Homo sapiens: one gene and its partners. The protein of the gene in region 1 interacts with the protein of each later gene in a pairwise test. Each region holds a gene or a part of one and is shown in the gene's direction. Other genes may lie near its edges. The genes, in order: PCBD2, XBP1, CHAF1A, AATF and GTF2E1.

What was found.
Region 2: the proteins of PCBD2 (region 1) and XBP1 interact in a two-hybrid assay, tested with the Homo sapiens proteins (one large-scale study listed by BioGRID and IntAct).
Region 3: the proteins of PCBD2 (region 1) and CHAF1A interact in a two-hybrid assay, tested with the Homo sapiens proteins (one large-scale study listed by BioGRID and IntAct).
Region 4: the proteins of PCBD2 (region 1) and AATF interact in a two-hybrid assay, tested with the Homo sapiens proteins (one large-scale study listed by BioGRID and IntAct).
Region 5: the proteins of PCBD2 (region 1) and GTF2E1 interact in a two-hybrid assay, tested with the Homo sapiens proteins (one large-scale study listed by BioGRID and IntAct).

Annotation. Positions count from the first base shown.
Region 1 is NC_000005.10:134,911,125-134,915,470, forward strand, and holds part of PCBD2 (pterin-4-alpha-carbinolamine dehydratase 2), read left to right. Parts: intron 1-4,346.
Region 2 is NC_000022.11:28,794,060-28,797,569, reverse strand, and holds the end of XBP1 (X-box-binding protein 1), read left to right. Parts: intron 1-364; coding exon 365-493; intron 494-1,377; coding exon 1,378-1,416; coding exon of another isoform or gene 1,417-1,442; coding exon 1,443-1,523; intron 1,524-1,837; coding exon 1,838-2,395; 3' UTR 2,396-3,010; downstream 3,011-3,510. UniProt on the Homo sapiens protein: Functions as a transcription factor during endoplasmic reticulum (ER) stress by regulating the unfolded protein response (UPR).
Region 3 is NC_000019.10:4,440,264-4,444,367, forward strand, and holds the end of CHAF1A (chromatin assembly factor 1 subunit A), read left to right. Parts: intron 1-1,981; coding exon 1,982-2,078; intron 2,079-2,661; coding exon 2,662-2,762; 3' UTR 2,763-3,134; downstream 3,135-4,104. UniProt on the Homo sapiens protein: Acts as a component of the histone chaperone complex chromatin assembly factor 1 (CAF-1), which assembles histone octamers onto DNA during replication and repair.
Region 4 is NC_000017.11:36,955,118-36,959,463, forward strand, and holds part of AATF (protein AATF), read left to right. Parts: intron 1-4,346. UniProt on the Homo sapiens protein: Part of the small subunit (SSU) processome, first precursor of the small eukaryotic ribosomal subunit.
Region 5 is NC_000003.12:120,776,990-120,781,335, forward strand, and holds part of GTF2E1 (general transcription factor IIE subunit 1), read left to right. Parts: intron 1-4,053; coding exon 4,054-4,346.

The DNA of each region.
Region 1 (4,346 bases):
AACTGGTTGAGGAAGATGTACCTGCTTGACTTATTTTCCCTGACTTTTTCTGGGCCGTTGGTAATTTTTCTTTCTTCCTGCAGTTAAATTTCTATCTCTCAGTCATCTCCCAGGCTGCACCCTTTTCCCTGACTGGCTTATTTTTCTCCAGCCCAGTAGCCAGATCCTGAACCTTTTCTTAAAACCTGACCTCCCCCTTGGAAGTCAGCTTTAACAAGGTAACTGTTCCATTAGGGACCCACCCTGTTTAGAGAGTCATCTCCCATGACTTAACCTTCAGTTATTACACCACTGCATTTGTAAAAGGTAAATGCTTTTGACTATTTTGTTTGTTCAGTTAGTTTGGTAATCCTTTGGACAGATTTATTGTTTTTATTTATATTGGGTGTCGGCATCTAGAAGTCAGAGACCATGTTTGCTTAAATAACTCTCTATTGTACCCAACACAGTTCTGGGTACAAACAGGCATTTGATAAATGCAGACATTGATTACAGTGTTTGCTAGTTTCTAGAAGGGTGTGTGAGGACCAGATTTGCACCAAAGAAACCTTCGGCATGTTTTCCTAGTAAATGTCATTGGCTCCACTGAGCTGCATGCCCGATTCTGTTCTCTATCCATCTGGCTGCCAGCCTCTGCTGTGAGTCTCCAACTCCTAAGGAAACCTGGACCAAGCAGACTCCCTGTCCCCGCTGCCCCACGTGCTCAACAGCTCTTGTTAGGGGCTTAGCACGCTGTGGCTGGTGGCAGGGAATCCCATTGGTACAGTAAGCCTGTGCATAAGCTCTAGGTAGCATTTTCCAAGCTTATTAAAATTCTTACATATGTACAGCTTGACTTCTTTAAACCTGGCCTAATTTATTGGGCTTGAACATGTGGCTTAAAGTACTCGAATGGTGTTGCCTCAGGCCCTGCCTATGATTCAGTCCTCCAGCACCATTCTGACCTTGCGCTCAGGGTGACTTTCAGCAATGGTAGGGAAGCATACTGGATTGATTGTAACATTATTCACTGGGGCATTTAATTAAGTAGACTTTTTTTTTCCCATTCACCCAACTTTTAGGAAAAAGAGGCAGATGACAAGAAAATCAGCTGATGTCAGGGAATGTATTCAGAGAACCAACACTGAGATTATATCCGGGGGTCAGTTTTCCCACTAGGCTCCTATGACTTCTGCGTGTACCATGGCCTGTAATGGTAACTGGTGTCCTGACAGTTGTCAGTGCCCTCCAGCGAAACACAACTAGGAACACACCTACAGTCGAACAAGTTGAGCTTATTGCTTATTGCTGTGAGGGAGAGTGCACACCAAAGGGCACCGTGGGGTGAGCCCATATAGGATTTGGGCTGTGGTAGTGATTTGGGGACTTTACTCTGGATTAGATGCTGTCAGGAAATGGGCAACTCTGTCATTTGGTATTTTAATAAATCGTATCTATAGGGAGAGTAGATTAAAGCAGTGCCAAAGCTGAAACTGAAGAAGAAGCAATAGTCACTCATTAGCTGGGAGAGGAGGATGTTTGGTATTTTGTGGCTTGGACAATGTTCATGTTTTGTCTGTGTTCAGGTATTGCAGAGTGGTCTTGTTTTTGTCTTCATCCATCATGGTCACAGAGTGGCCTTGTCTGGTGTTGATGTTGATGTTCGAAAGGAGAGCACCAAGGACTGGTTGATAGTACCAGGCCAGCGCCCAGGTGTCAGGAGTTGGTTTTCTCTTGCTCACAACTCGTGAGTAGAGTAGTGACCCTCTGGCGCTGATGGGTCCTCATTCATCTTTCATTTAGGACAGAAAAGCCATTGTTTTTTATTGTAACAACAGCATAACATTAAAATAGGATGGTGTAAGTAAAAAAAATTTCCAATCGCAACTACTTTTATTTTTCTCTGTTCTCTTCTGGTCTTTCTCCATGGGTATGTTTGTTTGCCAAGTATGCCAGAGCATGCCAGTTATACATGTGGTTACATTTAAAAAAATTTTTTAAATTTTATCATGAAATATTTATTAATTCAACAAAGATTTATTAAGCATTTTCTGTGTGCTAGGTGCTACTCTAAGCTCATACAGCTCCCATCCCAGTGGGAAAATAAACAATAAACAGATGAATAGGAAATATAATTTCAGCTAGTGATGAGTACCCTGAAGAATAAAGTAGGGAATTGGAGTGGAGGGGGACAGAGGCACTCTTGGAGGTAGAGTGGTCTGGAAAGTCCTCTCTGGGGAGGGGATCTCTGAGGCCTGAATAATGTGAAGGAGCTCAGCACATGGTGATCCAAGGGAAGAGCTTTCCAGCTGGAGAACAGCAAGCACAGAGTTTCCAAAGCAGAATGACCTTGGCATGATTGAGCCAGAAGCAGAAGGCCAGTGTGGAGTGGAGCAGGCGAGGAGACGAGGGGAAGGGTCAGAGCATGGGGGCCTTCTTGGCGTGGTGAGGAGTTTGGATTTTATTCTGTGAAGGAAAGCTAATGGAGGATTTCAGGCAGAGAAGTGTCATCCTGTGGCTGTGTTCTAAAAAATCACCCTGGCTGTTCTGCTCAGAATAGGCGGTAGGAAGGTCAGAGTGGAAGCAGGCAGACTCTGTAGAACACTGTTGCAGATGTCTAGACCGGGGATGATGGGGGTCTTATGGAGGTATCAGTGGGGATGGAGAGAAATGTAGGGTTCCACATATTTTGAAAGTAGAATAATCAAGACTTGCTGAATGATTGGATGTGTGATAGGGGAGGGTCAAGGATGGCACCAAGGTTTTGGTTCAAGCTATAGTGTAAAGGGTAGTGCCACTGGAGCCATTTACTGAGCTGTGGAAGATGGGGTGCAAGGTGGGGGGCAGGGGTATGGAGGTGAGAATCCTGTTTTCACATGTCAGGTTTGAGGTACTTATTAGTCATCCAAATGGAGTTATTGGGTTAGGAGGTGGGTGTAAGAGGCTGGAGTTCAGGCTGAGACAGCAGTTTGTGAGTTGTCAGAGGGGATCACTGTGAGAGCATGGTCCAGTTAGGCAGGAGAGGACAGGATCAGATGGGCAGTGGAGGCACAGCGATGATATGTCCATTGTGGTTTAGATGCCAATAGGCCGTTACATTCATCCTGGGAAAAAGAGGGCCATTCTCTCCTGATTGCTTTTGTTTTTTAGTGAGATCATCAATTGAGAGCAAGTAGGGGTGGAAGGGAAGAGTGTTGGAGACCTGGGGAGATAAGAGAAGGAGTGGAATAGTCATTTTGGAGACTAAGATAGTGAAAAAACTTGAGAAACGTGGCTGGTTGCTAAGCAGTTCTCAGTGTCACTACAGATTTGGGGTCAAACATTTAAAGTGAACATTTTGTATGTTTTTTTTCCTGCTGTGTTCCGCTGCTGTGCACAAGCTGGAGTAGATGCAGAGTTGGGCTTAACAAGGACTGAACTTTTGCTAAATGAATGCAATGGAGGAACAGAGGGACAAGGGAAAAAAGGGAGGGACAGAAACGCTGGCCCTTGGAGTCTCGGCAGGGTAGGGAAGTACAGTTGTGATGGGGAGGTGATAGTGATGAGCTGAGAGTGTCATTTGACATCATCTATTTTTTTTTTTTTCAGATGGAGTTTCACTCTTGTCACCCAGTCTGGAGTACAATGGTGCGATCTTGGCTCACTGCAACCTCCACCTCCCAGATTCAAGTGATTCTTCTGCCTCAGCCTCCAGAGTAGCTGGGATTACAGGCGCCCGCCATCATGCCCAGCTAATTTTTTGTATTTATAGTAGAGATGGGGTTTTGCCATGTTGGCCAGGCTGGTCTTGAATTCCTGACCTCAGGTGATCTGCCCGCCTCGGCCTACCAAAGTGTTGGGATTACAGGCATGAGCCACTGCACCCAGTTGACATCATCTTTTTGAAGGGAAATTGAGCAATGCCTATCAACTTTTAAAACTCACATACCAGAGCCGGGCGCGGTGGCTCACATCTGTAATCCCAGCACTTTGGGAAGCTGAGGTAGGTGGATCACGAAGTCAGGAGTTCGAGACCAGCCTGACCAACCTGGTGAAACCCTGTCTCTACCAAAAATACAAAAATTAACCAGGCGTGGTGGCGTGCGCCTGTAATCCCAGCTACTCAGGAGGCTGAGGGAGGAGAATCGCTTGAACCTGGGAGGCGGAGGTTGCAGTGAGCCGAGATCACACCATTTCACTCCAGCCTGGGTGACAAAGCGAGACTGTGTCTCAAAAAAAGAAAAAAAAGGACATATCCATTGTCCTAACCTAGAAATTTATCTTCTAAATATTGTTCTGCATGTATGCAAATAGGATGTATGGGGATGTCTATTAAAGCCTGATGGGCCTCTAATTTTTTTTTTTTTTTTTTTTTTTTTTTTGAGACA
Region 2 (3,510 bases), on another chromosome or scaffold:
ACCTCAGGTGATCCACCTGCCTTGGCCTCCCAAAGTGTTAGGATTACAAGTGTGAGCCACCGAGCCTGGCCAAGATAGTTTAAAAAAAAAATTATATCTACATTAAAGCCACAAGTCACCCTTTGCTGAAGTCAGTATTAGTAGTTGGAAGCAGTGTGTTATTCTTGACCCCATGAAGTGGCACTTATTAAGTAGCTTGCTTTTCCATAATTATGGCCTAGCTTTTTAAAACCTACTATGAACACCACAAGCATAGAGTTTTCCAAAAGTTCAAGAAGGAAAGGAAACCAATTATACTGAATCAGGTAGATTCTTAACTGAAATAATTAGATGTTTTAATAGCCTCTTATGAACTTTCTTCCAGAACCAAAAACTTTTGCTAGAAAATCAGCTTTTACGAGAGAAAACTCATGGCCTTGTAGTTGAGAACCAGGAGTTAAGACAGCGCTTGGGGATGGATGCCCTGGTTGCTGAAGAGGAGGCGGAAGCCAAGGTAAATCATCTCCTTTATTTGGTGCCTCATGTGAGTACTGGTTCCAAGTGACATGACCCAGCGATTATGTTTACAGTCTGGACTTCTGATCAAGAGCGTTCTTGAAATTTTCCTTCAGTTTTAAGACATTTTCATGCAGGCAGAGTGTTCTTCCCCTAAAGGCACTTGACACTCATTTTTTAAGTGTGTAGTGAACAGTACTAAGATCTAATAATGAAAACAAGTTACATGGCTCCCTAAGAACAAGTACTAACAAATGCAGTAGCCAACAAGATTACCATGCAATCATTAAGGAGAACCAAAGTAAGAGAGCCACTCAAACCAGATTTTGAACGCTACTAAAATTAAAGTAGTTCTTTGATGAATATGAATGAGTAGGGAAAGGATTCTTTGTAATAGTGATACCTCTGTGGTAAGAGAAGGGTGGTATGTGAGTTTTAGTCTACAGATTATGGCAAATTCAGTGACAACAATCAAATGGTCTAAGATTGACAGTAGCACAGTTTTACTCTGTGAAGGTAATGTTCAGGACAAATTTCAAGAAAACTAGAAAACCATTCTTTACAGCTGAAATCTTTCCCTAACCATTGTTATTTCCACTTTTAAGTCCTCAAGAGATGAGAAAAGGGAGGTAAGGCTTCCTTATACATTTCCTGCACAATGAAACATTTTTCCTCCTCCAGGCAAAGATTCAAGCAGAACTGGCAAATATCTTATCTTGCTCTTCTCAATAATAATAATGTTGTTAGATAATAAAGTTCTATAGCAATTTAACCCTAGAATCTTTTTGAAAAGTAATTCTTTAAAGTTGAGAATCACAGCTGTCTAGCAAGCATTTCCTTGGGCACTTGAAGCTGTTTATTCACTTTGGTCTTTCCTCCCAGGGGAATGAAGTGAGGCCAGTGGCCGGGTCTGCTGAGTCCGCAGCACTCAGACTACGTGCACCTCTGCAGCAGGTGCAGGCCCAGTTGTCACCCCTCCAGAACATCTCCCCATGGATTCTGGCGGTATTGACTCTTCAGATTCAGAGGTAGGGATCATTCTGACTTATTAAAGAGCTATATAACCAGTTAATTCCATCTGTTTGATGCTTGACATCCCTAACTAGACAGATGAGGGTTGAAGTTAGTTTTTGGTGGGGTTGGAGGTGAACATCAACTACCTTCCTAGTTCCAGGTAATATAGAACATGGAGTGAAGTGTAGATAAATGGGTCTGGTGGGTCCCGAGGTCATCTTATCACATAATGACTAATTTACATTATGGAACCCAGTACAAAGTGTTCCAGTTAGATTTTCCATTGTATTCTGACAGTTGTACTTCATTTAATTTTTGCCTCTTACAGTCTGATATCCTGTTGGGCATTCTGGACAACTTGGACCCAGTCATGTTCTTCAAATGCCCTTCCCCAGAGCCTGCCAGCCTGGAGGAGCTCCCAGAGGTCTACCCAGAAGGACCCAGTTCCTTACCAGCCTCCCTTTCTCTGTCAGTGGGGACGTCATCAGCCAAGCTGGAAGCCATTAATGAACTAATTCGTTTTGACCACATATATACCAAGCCCCTAGTCTTAGAGATACCCTCTGAGACAGAGAGCCAAGCTAATGTGGTAGTGAAAATCGAGGAAGCACCTCTCAGCCCCTCAGAGAATGATCACCCTGAATTCATTGTCTCAGTGAAGGAAGAACCTGTAGAAGATGACCTCGTTCCGGAGCTGGGTATCTCAAATCTGCTTTCATCCAGCCACTGCCCAAAGCCATCTTCCTGCCTACTGGATGCTTACAGTGACTGTGGATACGGGGGTTCCCTTTCCCCATTCAGTGACATGTCCTCTCTGCTTGGTGTAAACCATTCTTGGGAGGACACTTTTGCCAATGAACTCTTTCCCCAGCTGATTAGTGTCTAAGGAATGATCCAATACTGTTGCCCTTTTCCTTGACTATTACACTGCCTGGAGGATAGCAGAGAAGCCTGTCTGTACTTCATTCAAAAAGCCAAAATAGAGAGTATACAGTCCTAGAGAATTCCTCTATTTGTTCAGATCTCATAGATGACCCCCAGGTATTGTCTTTTGACATCCAGCAGTCCAAGGTATTGAGACATATTACTGGAAGTAAGAAATATTACTATAATTGAGAACTACAGCTTTTAAGATTGTACTTTTATCTTAAAAGGGTGGTAGTTTTCCCTAAAATACTTATTATGTAAGGGTCATTAGACAAATGTCTTGAAGTAGACATGGAATTTATGAATGGTTCTTTATCATTTCTCTTCCCCCTTTTTGGCATCCTGGCTTGCCTCCAGTTTTAGGTCCTTTAGTTTGCTTCTGTAAGCAACGGGAACACCTGCTGAGGGGGCTCTTTCCCTCATGTATACTTCAAGTAAGATCAAGAATCTTTTGTGAAATTATAGAAATTTACTATGTAAATGCTTGATGGAATTTTTTCCTGCTAGTGTAGCTTCTGAAAGGTGCTTTCTCCATTTATTTAAAACTACCCATGCAATTAAAAGGTACAATGCAGCATCCTTGTTTGATTTCTTCTAGGGCCGTAAGTCTTGTTTTCTCTCCAGATGTTTATCTGTGTGCTGTGGTAGGAATTAATCCAACTGAAGTGAGCCTAACGCTTTTTAAAGTGACTGAAGGCTTTTCCACCTTAATTACTGCCTGCTTTAATTCTGGACTGCCATAAGTGATATAAGCTATAATTTGAGCAGTTACTGTCTTTCTGAGACAGATTCTTGAGCCTAACTGACCAATATCACAGCTAGTAAGTGGAAGAGCTAGAACCCTAACCACTATTTGCTACACCATCTTATAAATGTTAAACAAGGACACACCATCACATATCGAGATTCTCTTGCCCTTATTATGGGAATTAAGAGCATTTTCTAGACTGAAACTCCCTATTTTCAACTCTGCCACTGGTAAGCTGGGTAACCCAGGGGTTATATATAATCACTTATTTCCTCATCTGTAAAGTTGGATAATGGTATCTCTAAAGGTTAAGATTCAAAGAGACG
Region 3 (4,104 bases), on another chromosome or scaffold:
TACGCATCCTGTCTTTCTCCTTTGGTGAAAGCAAATGGAAACAGCTCAGGAATCTTACTAGGGTCAGGTGCGGTGGCTCACACCTTGTCATCCCAGCACTTTAGGAGGCCGAGGTGGAAGGATGGCTTGAGCCCAGGTTGAGACCAGCCTGGGCAACATAGTGACACCCCCTTGTCTCTACTTAAAAAAAAAAAAATTAGCTGGGCGTGATGGCGGGTGCCTGTAGTCCCATCTTCTCAGGAGGCTGAGGCAGGAGAATGGTGTGAACCCAGGAAGTGGAATTTGCAGTGAGTCGAGGTCTAAAAAAATAATAATAATAATTCACAAGTCACAGTCATCACTTCACATCAGGGACGTGTTCTGAGAGGTGTCCTCAGGCAATTTCATGGTTGGGTGGGGCTAGGTTGCTCTTACACATCCTAGATGGACAGCCTGCCACACGCCTGGGCCGTGTGGTACATAGCCCAGGGCTCCTGAGCTGTGGACCTGTGCAGCAGGTGACTGACTGCTCCATCCTGCAGGCACTTGTAACCCAGTGGTATATGTGTCTTTAACATAGAAAAGGCACAGCAGAGGCCAGGTGCGGTGGCTCATGCCTGTAATCCCAGCACTTTGGGAGGCTGACGTGGGCGAATCCTGAGGTCAGGAGTTCGAGACCAGCCTGGCCAACATGGCGAAACCCCCGTCTGTACTAAAAATACAAAAGATTAGCTGGGCGTAGTGGCGGGCACCTGTTAAAAAAAAAAAAAAAGGCACAGCAAAAATATCGTTGCGGCTGGGGCAGTGGCTCACGCCTGTAATCCCAGCACTTTGGGAGGCCAAGGCAGGCGGATCACTTCAGGTCAAGAGTTCGAGACCAGCCTGGCAACATGGTGAAACCCCATCTCTACTAAAAATACAAAAATTAGCCGGGTGTGGTGGCAGGTGGCTGTAATCCCAGCTACTCAGGAGGCCGAGGCAGGAGAATCACTTGAACCTGGGAGTCAGAAGTTGCAGTGAGCCAAGATCGCACCACTGCACTCCAGCCTGGATATATGGCAAGACTCTGTCTCAAGATTTATATATATTAAATAAAAATACAGTTGTCTGTAATCCCAGGACTTTGGGAGGCTGAGGTGGGTAGATCATAAGGTCAGGAGTTTGAGACCAGCTTGACCAACATGGTGAAACCCCGTCTCTACTAAAAATACAAAAATTAGCTGGGCGTGATGGCATACACCTGTAATCCCAGCTACTCAGGAGGCTGAAGAACGAGAATCGCTTGAACCCGGGTGGCGGAGGTTGCAGTGAGCTGAGATTGTGCCACTGCACTCCAGCCTCAGTGACAGAGTGAAACTCCCGTCTCAAAAATAAAAAATAAAGGCCAGGCATGGTGGCTCACACCTGTAATCCCAGCACTTTGGGAGGCTGAGGCGGGCGGATCACGAGGTCAGGAGATCAAGACCATCCGGATAACACGATGAAACCCCGTCTCTACTAAAAATACAAACTGGGCGTGGTGTCAGGCGCCTGTAGTCCCAGCTACTCAGGAGGCTGAGGCAGGAGAATGGCGTGAATCCGGGAGGCGGAGCTTGCAGTGAGTCGAGATCGCGCCACTGCACTCCAGCCTGGGCAACAGAGCGAGACTCCGTCTCAAAAAAAAATAAAAATAAATAAATACAGTTGTAATCTGATGGGGCCACTATCAGGTATGCGGCCTGTCACTGACTGGAAATTATTCTGCAGTTGGCAATGATGGCTGTTTTTGGAGATCTGAATCCAGTTCATTTGAGGGAACCCCCAAGGTTCTCTGGTTGTGGCCTCTTGAATAAACCTCTCACATTTGGACAGTTTGTTACCAAATTGGGTTCTGGATGTTGGTTTCCTTCCGTGTTGGGGGTGGGAGGAAGGTGTCACACCTGTGGAGTTCCCCCCGCTACCGCACTGGCACCAGGGTGGCTGCTGCCTGCAGTGCTGATGGCCGTGTACCCTGTCTGTCCAGATTGGTGCTGAAGACATGGACGGCTTCCAGGCAGACACGGAGGAGGAGGAAGAGGAGGAGGGCGACTGTATGATCGTGGATGTCCCGGATGCTGCGGGTGAGAAGGGCTGTAGATAGCAGAACGCACTGGTGAGGTGGGCGCTGGAGGTAAACCTCAACAGAGAAGGGATGGGGCTGCCTAAGACTAGCTCCACTGTGAGCAGCCAGGAGGGCTTGCAGCTGGAAGTGGCTCCTGCCCTGCCACATCCTCGGGCGGGCTGGGCCGTGGGTGCTGACCATGCCAGGCATCGTTCTGGCCGCAGAGCCACAAGGGCCTATGCTGGGAGTCTCAGGTGGTTGTGACGTTAGATGGGGGTCAGGGAAGGCTGCACTGAGGCAGCAAGGGAGGGCCAGGTGGATTTCTGGAGCACTCGCCAAAGAGGAAGTACAGAGGCCCTGCAGCAGGCTGCGTGGGAGGAGTGTGCCCGGGTGGTGGGGGGCAGGCAGGGTCAACCTGAGAGCAGGTGAGCAGGTCACCTCTAGAAGAGGCACAACGCCCCAGCCTCTGCCTGTCCCCACTGTCAGGTGGAGGGTCCCGCCCTGGGGTTGTTGCAGGCCCCATGAGGCAGCAGGGTGGGGTCTTCCCCCAGGGAGCCCAGAGGGCCCAGCCAGCTCAAGACCCTCCCTCTCTTGCCCTGCAGAGGTCCAAGCCCCGTGTGGAGCCGCTTCCGGAGCTGGGGGTGGTGTGGGGGTGGACACCGGCAAGGCCACCCTGACCGCGAGCCCACTGGGTGCATCCTGAGAGCAGGGGTGACGTATGTAGAATGCTTAGGGTGTCCTCCCCACAGAGCAGATACTTGAACCGACTCAATTCCTGTGTAAAGAGCACTTTGTCCTGCTTCACGGACCTCCCCAAAGTGTGCAGAGTTCTATATAGGATGCTGGATTAGTTCCTTTGATATTTGTAAAAATTCCCCCAAGAGCCGCATATGAATCTGCCCTTTAATAAAGCATTATTGAGATTGCTGGCCTATTGGGGAAGCCTGCGGGCACAGGAGCAGGCGTGGAATCCAATACTTGTAAATGAATTGAAGCGTCAGGACCACCCGCCTGGCCACGTGCGCGGGCCCCTGGACCTAACGAGGCAGTGTATAAACTTATTCTCTAGCCCTGAGCTGCTCTGTCTGTCTTTTCCGAAAACATTGTGTTTCTCTGAGAGTGCACCTTGCCCATGGCCCGGCCCCATGTGGTGCCTGGTGTCTGGGGCCAGCCTTGTGCCCTGCAACAGCACCGTCCCATCTGTTTGTCACTAAGTCACCCTCATACCAGGCTGACCTGGGTCAAGGTGCGGGTTTTTCCGCACGTGCTTCTGTCCGGCGATCCCTCCTGCCCTGGGTTGGGGGGTTAGGAGAGGGTGTTCCCAGAGACCTGCTAGGGTCACCTCCCTGAACCCGGAGCTGCTGGGAGCCGAGTTTGGCTTCGAGTCTGAGGCTTTGTGAGAGCCCACCCCAGGTCAGGTGCATCTTTTGCGAGTGCTGGAGCTAGAAGGTGACCTCCTCCCCGCCCCAGGTTGAGTGGGCTTTATCCACACTGTCCGAGGGAGGACAGGCGACAGCCGCTGTGGTACTGAGCAGCTCAGAGCACACGCAGCCACGGGGAGGGTCACGCTCGCCAGTCCTGCTCTTCCCAGCCACACCCCACCTGAAGTCCTAAGCTTCCCTTCAGGGAACCCTATGTGGGAAAAGTGTCAGCTACCTCCATCCACCCAGTCAGGGACGGCAGGGCGCCCGGGCCAGGCCTTCCTGCTGGGAAGCAGGATTCAGCTGTGCCTGAAGCAGAGGCTGCCCCTGTGCCACACCTTTGATGAGCTTTACAGGGGCTCCCGACAACCCGGAATCAGGTCCTGGGGCCTGCAGGACGCAGGACTGGAGTGACAGCCTCCATTCTCAACAGGCCGGGTGCCCACACCAGCTGGGGCAGTGCCGGGGGCGAGGGAGGGACCAATGCAAGGTCAGGGGCACGAGCATAGGCCCCGGGCACCTCCCCCAGGTGCAGACCTGCATCCCCAAGTCAGCAGTGGGGCCGGGGCACACATGCCTTCCACACTGCAGGGCAGAGTCCCTGTGTCTCCTGGGGCTGCTGTA
Region 4 (4,346 bases), on another chromosome or scaffold:
TTCATTTGCTCTTTAAAACTTATTTTTTTAGTATCATGGAGTTAGAGTTGGAAGGGACCTGAGGAGGATATCTAATTTGGCATCTGCCTGTAGGTAGAACCGCCTTAAGACATTCAAGATCAATGTGTAGGATTTCCCAGGTAGGGAGTTCAGTGAACGTTTCTTGTAGGTGAATACCTGATGTAATTAGGAATGGCTTCCTAGAGTCCAGTTTTTGGGTTTTGTGTCCCGCCACACTTAAAGTCTGCTTCTTCCCCTGTGGGAAGTCTGGGCAGTCCTTCCCAGGAGCCTTACGTGGCCTGTGTGGGTGAGGTGGGCCATTTATATCCCCGCCCCTGTCTTTGCCTCCTTTCTCTCTCAAATAGATGACAGATTGATGGTTTTCAAGTTTTTTGAGATTTTTGGAGCACTTCTCTGCTATTTTTAGTGTCCTAGTACCCTAATTCCTGGTATGCCTTTGGAATGAGACCTAGACTGCTCTAGATTAAATGTTTTAAATGTTTCACGATAAGGCCTGTTTTCATTTTGTTACTCATTATTCTTTTTGCTTGAGCCTTTTTCATTTTAAAAAATTCATATTTAAATATAGATATTTTAGGGGTTAGTCAGTGTCCAGTATAATGGACACATATTCTTGGATACGATTTAATTTCTTTTTGTTATGAGACAGGGTCTTGCTCTGTTGCCCAGGCTGGAGTGCAGTAGCGTGATCATAGCTCGTTGCAGCTTCGAACTCTTGGGTTCAAGTGATCTTCCCGCCTCAGCCTCCTGAGTAGCTGGTACTACAGGCATGAGCCACCATGCCCGACTAATTTTTTCTTTTTTTGTGGAAATAGGGTCTCACTATGTTGACCAGGCTGGTCTCAAAACTCCTGGTTTCAAATGATCCTTCCGTGTCAGCCTCCCCAAAATGCTGGGATTACAGGTGTGAGCCACCATACTCAACTCATTTAGTGTCTTTAATCACTGCAGTGTTATTTAACTTTTATTTTGTTCTGATCTTTTTACTCTTTTTTGTACTTAACCAATTGCCTTTACCTCATTGATGAACCTCAATTAATCTGACAGCATCTATTAATCTGACAGGGTGGGTTGTGGTGGAGGAGGGAGAAGAAAGGAAGTTTGGTATCACATATTCTAAGGTGGGAGGGTAGGGAGTTTTCAAGTAATGAGCTGTGCATTTGAAGAGTAGCTAATTTTTCTTGTGGCAATATGACATAATATGTTGTATACTCCCCTGTCTTGATAAACAGACTTTAAGAAAAAAATTCTTGGCCGGGTGCAGTGGCTCACGCCTGTAATGCCAGCACTTTGGGAGGCCGAGGTGGGCTGATCACCTGAGGTCAGAAGTTTGAGCCCAGCCTGGCCAATGTGGTGAAACCCCGTCTCTACTGAAAATACAAAAATTAGCCAAGTGTGGTGGCAGGTGCCTGTAATCTCAGCTACTCGGGAGGCTGAGGCAGGAGAATTGCTTGAACCTGTGAGGCGGAGGCTGCAGCGAGCCAAGATTGTGCCATTGCACTCCAGCCTGGGCAACAAGAGTGAAACTCCGTCTCAAAAAAAAAAAAAAAGTTCTTGGCCGGGCACGGTGGCTCCCGCTTATAATCCCAGCACTTTGGGAGGCTGAGGCAGGCGGATCACTTTAGGTCAAGAGTTTGAGACCAGCCTAGCCAACGTGGTGAAATCCCATCTTTAATAAAAATAAAAATATTAGCCAGGTATGGTGGTACACACTTGTAGTCCCAGCTACTTGGGAGGTTGAGGCAGGAGAATCACTTGAACCCGGGAGCAAAGGTTGTAGTGAGCTGAGATCGTGCTAGTGCACTCTAGCCTGAGCGACAAGAGCGAAACTGTCCCCCCCGAAAAAAAAAAGAGAGAGAGAGAGAAAATTCTTGAGCACATTACTCTGGATGACCAATTTATTACTGTGCTGTATAGCTGGTGTGGAACATAGGCTGAATTTGTACCAACCCCAGAACAACCACTGGAACTTACTGTCTTTAATTAAATCTCTTTTCAATTTGCTTGGTCTTACAGAGTAGTTAAAGTCAGACCGGCTTGGTTTAGATTTCATCTCAGCAATGGATTAGCCATGTGACCTTGGGCAAGTTACTTAACTTCACAGTAAAATGGGGATAATATGGTTGTGAGGATTAAAGGACATAATCAATAGAAAGCATTAGCACAGTGTCTGGCACACATCTCACCATGAATGTTAGGTACTAATATTATCTTTTTCTGCTCAAAGAGGCATTTGGCAGTGTTCGACCATGTGAGCAATCACTCAATAGTTATCAGTGTAACTGAGCCTCACTAGTCTTCAGTGTTTTTTACTTTTTTATTAGTATTTGGATTCTTTATATAATTTAAATTAACTAATTGTTCTGGAAAGTGTTATAGTTTACTAATACTTACAATGCAGTGTTGGCCTCTTACGACGCTATGGAAAGATGGCTACAGATTTCCTTATTGCTATACCCAGCTACTACCTCCTTGAAGCGTTTAACTTTTCCTTGAAATACTTTTCTTTGGCTTGGTGACACTACCTGTGCTGTTTGGGTTCTCCTACCTTTCTGATCTCTTCTCTGGTTCCTTTTGTATCCTCTCAATGTAAATTTCATTCCGTTTAGAATCCTGTCCTCAGGTTGCGTTTTCTCAATATAGTCTCTCCTTGGCACTGTCACTTACTCTGATAACCCTAACTATTGCCTCTAAAATAACAGACTTCCAGCTGTATTCTAGCTCCAGTAAACTCCTGAGTACCATGCCTTTGTAGCTTCAGCACCCTAAACTCTACTTTTCAGAAACTAAATGAATATCTCCTTCCTCTCCACACACCACCCCAAACACGTAAACTTAGTCCCCAGTCACCTTGGTGTTACATGTTGGTAATTTAAACTTGAACTGTGGAAGTGATTTCAAAGACATCGTCTGATATTTTAGTGGCTGCATAAGTGGTAAGTCATGGAGTAATCTTAACAAAATTAAGGGATTTTCTGTGCACAAAACCATTTCTCTAAAAGGGTTTGCTTTTTCTCTCTTTCTTTTTTTTCTTTTTTTTTTGAGATGGAGTCTCTCTCTGTCACCCAGGCTGGAGTGCAGTGGTGCGATCTCAACTCACTGCAACTTCTGCCTCCCAGGTTCAAGCGATTCTCCTGTCTCTGCCTCCTGGGTAGCTGGGACTACAGGCGCATGCCACCACACCCGGCTAATTTTTGTAATTTTTTTTAGTAGAGATGGGGTTTCACCATGTTGGCCAGGCTGGTCCTAAACTCCTGATCTTGTGATCCACCCACCTTGGCCTCTCAAAGTGCTGGGCTTACAGGTATGAGCCACTGTGCCTGGCCTTCTCTCTTTTAGAATTTCTACTGTATTAGGAAATACATCTTTTATGTTGGTGGCAATGATATGTAAGGAAGAAGGGAAGTTACTTAAGGAAATCTCACCATGAGTTATTTAAAACTTTTCATTATGGGATATATCAAACTTATATAAAAGTAGAGAAATAGCACAGTGAACCCCCACATGCCTTCACCAGCTTAAGCAATAATCAATTCATGGTCAATCTTATTTCATCTGTAGTTGTACCAACTCTGCTCACCTTCTGGATTATTTTGAAGCAAATAATACACATTCTCTCATCAGTAAAATTTTCAGCATGTATGTTCAAAAGATAAGGATTTTAAAAAATTATACCATAATCTCATGTAAAAACATTAACAGTAATTTCTTAATAAACATAACTGGCCTGGTGTGGTGGCTCATGCCTGTAATCCTAGCACTTTGGGAGGCCAAGACAGGTGGATCACCTGAGGTCAGGAGTTCGAGGCCAACCTGACCAACATTATGAAACCCCGTCTCTACTGAAAATACAAAAAATTAGCTGGGTGTGGTGGCGGGCACCTGTAATTCCAGCTATTCAGGAGGCCAAACAGGAAAATCTCTTAAACTCGGGAGGTGGAGGTCGCAGTGAGGCGAGATTGCGCCACTGCACTCCAGCCTGGGCAACGAGCAAAACTCCGTCTCAAAAAAAACAAACATACAGACTGGGTGTGGTGGCTCATGCCTGTAATCCCAGCACTTTGGGAGGCCAAGGTGGGCAGATCACCTGAGGTCCGGAGTTCAAGACCAGCCTGGCCAACATAATGAAACACCGTCTCTACAAAAGTACAAAAATTAGCCAGGCATGATGGTGGGTTCCTGTAATCCCATCTACTCAGGAGGCTGAGGTGGGAGAATTGCTTGAACCCAGGAGGCAGAGGTTACAGTGAGCAGAGATCATGCCATTGCACTCCAGCCTGGGTGACAGAGCGAGAGTCTGTCTCAAGAAAACAAACAAACCAACA
Region 5 (4,346 bases), on another chromosome or scaffold:
CCTGACTTATATGCATTTAATTTTTCTGAATTGGGAGCCAAAACTATACGCTACCCCAAACTTTATGTTTTCTCTTCATAAATACCAAGGAGTGTATGCTACCTGAAATAGATACAAAGAGACCACATGAATAAAGGATTGAGCATTCTCACAGTCCAAGACGGTTAGCAGAACTTTGTTCTAGAGGATTTTGGAAATTTCTGAGGCATAAAGGGTTAAGAATTGCATACTAATCTTCGGAAGTTAGAGAACTGCAAGATTTTACTTTCTAAGTTTTAGTCTAAGTTACTGCATTCAAGACTTTGAGTGATGATGGTTTAGGAGTATGTAGAAAATGGGAGGCAAAAATGGATGACGATGACTCAAGCTGGAAAGTAGAGAGGAAGGGTGTCTCTATTTCTTGCTGAATTTTATCAGTGTAACAATCAATGTGCCGCTACTCCCAAGTTAATATATCATTACTAACATATCACGTGAGTTTGGTGATATGTTAGTGCCAAAGAATAATCAGTAGCTGAAAACCACTTGTTTTTTGGCGTTTCTCCTAGCCTCTTTTCCCTTCATAATTAGCATTTAGTATATGTATATACTAGAAATTGTGAAGGTAACGTGGAGTTTGGTAGTGATGGTAAAGCAGCTAATACCTCTACTGTGATTCTCTTTGATATATTAATTTTAATAAGAAAAGGTTTTCCAAGGCAACCATACTTTACCCTCCTTCTTCCTCACTGATTAGCCTGCCATGTTAGTTTTTTTGACGGAGTCTCGCTCTGTTGCCTAGGTTGGAGTACAGTGGTGCGATCTTGGCTCACTGAAACCTCTGCTTTCCGTGTTCAAGTGATTCTCTTGCCTCAGCCTCCTGAGTAGCTGGAATTGGGCGCAAGCCACCATGGCCAGCTAATTTTTGTATTTTTAGTAGAGACGGGGTTTTGCCATGTTGTCCAGGCTGGTCTCAAACTCCTGACCTCAAGTGATCTGCCTGCCTCGGCCTCCCAAAGTGCTGGGATTACAGGCATGAGCCACTGTGCCCAGCCTGTTGTGTTATTTAGATTGAAGTTGTTTTAGATTATACAGTAGTTAGGCTATACTACTACTTAATAAATTTGTTTTCCCCAACTTGGCTTCTTGCCTGTTCTTAAAGCAGCCTTCTTTTCTTTGAACTTAGGAAGAAAACTGAATAAAATAAAATTATTATTAACCAACATTATATATTAAGCTCATAAGTTTAACATTCTAGTTTACAGTTCCTAAAATGATAGAATATGAATCATATGGGCCTTAAATAAGTTATCTGGTCTACTTAAGTTTTGTAAATATTTATTTCTGCATAAAATAGGATAGTATGTTGTCATGTCTGAATTTATCCTAAGTTTCTTGATAGTAGAGCAGACTCTATCCAGTGAATGTATGAAGTGGGTCTTAACACTTGATTTTCCTCAAACTTCAAGTCATGTTGATATCTTTCACAATTGTATCGACTTCAATCATGTTCTCATTACTATACTGAAGAAAGTTCTAATTCCTTTTGATTCTGTTTTCCTTAAACAGTTCTCTTTTCCACTGCTGCCACCTCCTACAGTTTTTGTTTATTTTTGTCTTTTTCTGGACCATCTCTAATTGTAATATACTTTACTTGAGACATAGTGACCAGAATGATACATGTTGTTCATGCATGGATTCACCATTGATTTGAGTTTTATTTCCAGTATCTTTCTGGTTTTTACTTGAGATTTTGTTTGTTGCTTTGGTTCTGGAAGCATGTTAAGACCAAAAACTTCTAGAAACACGTAGAGGTACTTTTTAGGTTCTTCTGTGCCTTGAATCCAATAGCTTGGATCATATCTTTCAGTATATTTTAGATTATTTTTCTGCAGGCTGATTTTCTTGCACTTGCTGAAATAGAAATAGATCTGCTACTTTTCTGCCCACGTATACAACCTTCAGCTCTTCCTATATTTTTTTGCTGCAACTTGGCCTTTCAGTACCCACAATTGCTTAGCATCAATTCCGTGAATATAGTTTCCCAGTATACATCTTCTTTGTAATTTATAACTCTGTTGAAAAAGGCTGTTCCTAGAACCACTGTTTCTACTTTACCATCCAGAAATTTGCTCATTTATCCTTGTTTTTTGTTTTCTGTCTTCATCTGTAACAGAATAATTCTTTTTTCTCCAAACCTCTCAAGACCCTTGTCAGAAATCTGTTACGTGTGACTTAATTTAGTTTACAAAACTAATTTTCTTTTTCCCTAATTTAATACTTAAACATTAATCAAAATACTGTGTTGATATTATTAAACTATTTGGAACATTCTTTTAGAAGCAATTATTGTCTTAAAGGCTTGCATGCATTCCTTACCTTCTTTTCTTTCTGTTGTAGTGCTGCATTGGCAGTAAGCTCTAAGGAGGAGGTTCAGCCTTTGACAATATTTTGAAGTAGTTAAGTTTGATTTTAACTCTCATTTTGACAGTCATGTTATCAAAAGCCTCTTTTCTCTGACCTAAACTTTTAACTTGTCTGCTTCTGTTTCCCTTTCTCTCTCTTATCTGCTCAGTATCTCATTTTAGGAGTTCTGTGCCTTCTAAAATGTCCAGGGATTTAGCTAATTCATTTTAATGTGTTAATGAGAAGATGCTTTCACTTTATCCATAGTCAGAATTGACCATTTCTGAGTCTTCTCTTGATGACGATGATGATAGATAACACTATTCTAAGTGCCAGGCCCATTCTAGACACTTCACAGACATTCACTTAATCCCCACAGTAATCTAGTGAAGTAAATACTATTTTCCCCCTTTCTGTACTTGAGAAAATTGAAGCGGAGAGATGAAATAACTTGGCCAGAATCATACAGCTAAATAGTGTTAGGATTTGAATCAGGGAGTCAGGTTCCAAACAATACTTTTAATCTTTTTATGTATTTTAAATGGCAGTATGTTTGGTAGTAGTATCAGAATGCAGAATGCAGATGGTTTTCTTAAATATTTCATCTGCAGTATATCAGGTAAGATATGTACACAAAATGATAGGAGGTGTGTGGTGAGAGAAGCTTCATTCCTAAAATTAGATTCTTTTTTTATAAAGAGTTTTAAGTATGCTTAGTTTGCTTCATGAAAATAAAACTCACATTTATTCACTCATTTGTCAGATGTTTATTCAGTGCCTAACAGAGTGGCAGGTACTATTTAGGTAAATGGGATATATCCATGAATAAACAAGATAAATATCTGTTGTGGTAGAACCTACATCCTTGGAAAGGGGGTGACAAAGACAATAGATGTAAGTTATTCATTATGTTAGGAAATAAGTGCTATGGGGGAAAAATAGAGCATTGGGAATGTAGGGATAGGATACATTTAAAAGGTAACATTTGAATAAAGACATGAAAGATGGAAGGGAGTTAGCTGTGTGAGTACCTAAAGGAAAAATATTCCAGGCAGAGGGAACAGGTAATGCAAAGGCCCTGAGGTAGGAGTGTGTCTGATATGTACAAGGAATACCATGGAGGCTACTGTGGCTAGACAAGAATGAGCAGGGGAAAGAAGTAAGAGGTAGATGATCAGGAAGGATTCCAGATGATGTGGGACCCTATAGGCCATTGCAAAGCTTTTGGCTTTTACCTTGAGTGAGATAAAGAGCCATGTTTTGATTTTCTGTTATGCCAGCTACTCTAGTCGATTCTTCATAGACATTATCTTATATGTTTTTATTCAGAACCTTAGAAAGTAGATGCTTTTATCACCTCATTTTACAGAAAAAGGTATTGAAGTTTAGAGATTAAATAACTTGCCCAAGATGCTTGTGTGTAGAAGAACCAGGATTCAAATCTATGCTATAATACTCTTAAAGCCAATGTACTTGACCATTATGCTACTTAAGCTCCAGTTTGTAAGAAATATTTTGAATATTTTATGGATAGCAGCTCAAAAATGGAACCAGTGAAGTCTGTTATTTTATCGTATTATTTAAATATATGTTAAAATATTGTCTATATGCTATAAAGAAATGCCATTTATATTTAAGGATATTGACTTTCTGAGTTTTACTCCCCAGGGGGCATAGATATGGACGCATTTCAGGAGCGTGAGGAAGGCCATGCTGGGCCTGATGACAACGAAGAGGTCATGCGAGCACTGCTCATTCACGAGAAAAAGACTTCCTCTGCCATGGCTGGTTCAGTGGGGGCAGCTGCTCCAGTGACCGCTGCCAATGGCAGTGACTCAGAAAGCGAGACCAGTGAGTCAGATGATGATTCTCCACCCCGTCCGGCAGCTGTGGCTGTGCATAAACGAGAAGAGGATGAAGAGGAAGATGACGAGTTTGAAGAAGTAGCAGATGACCCCATT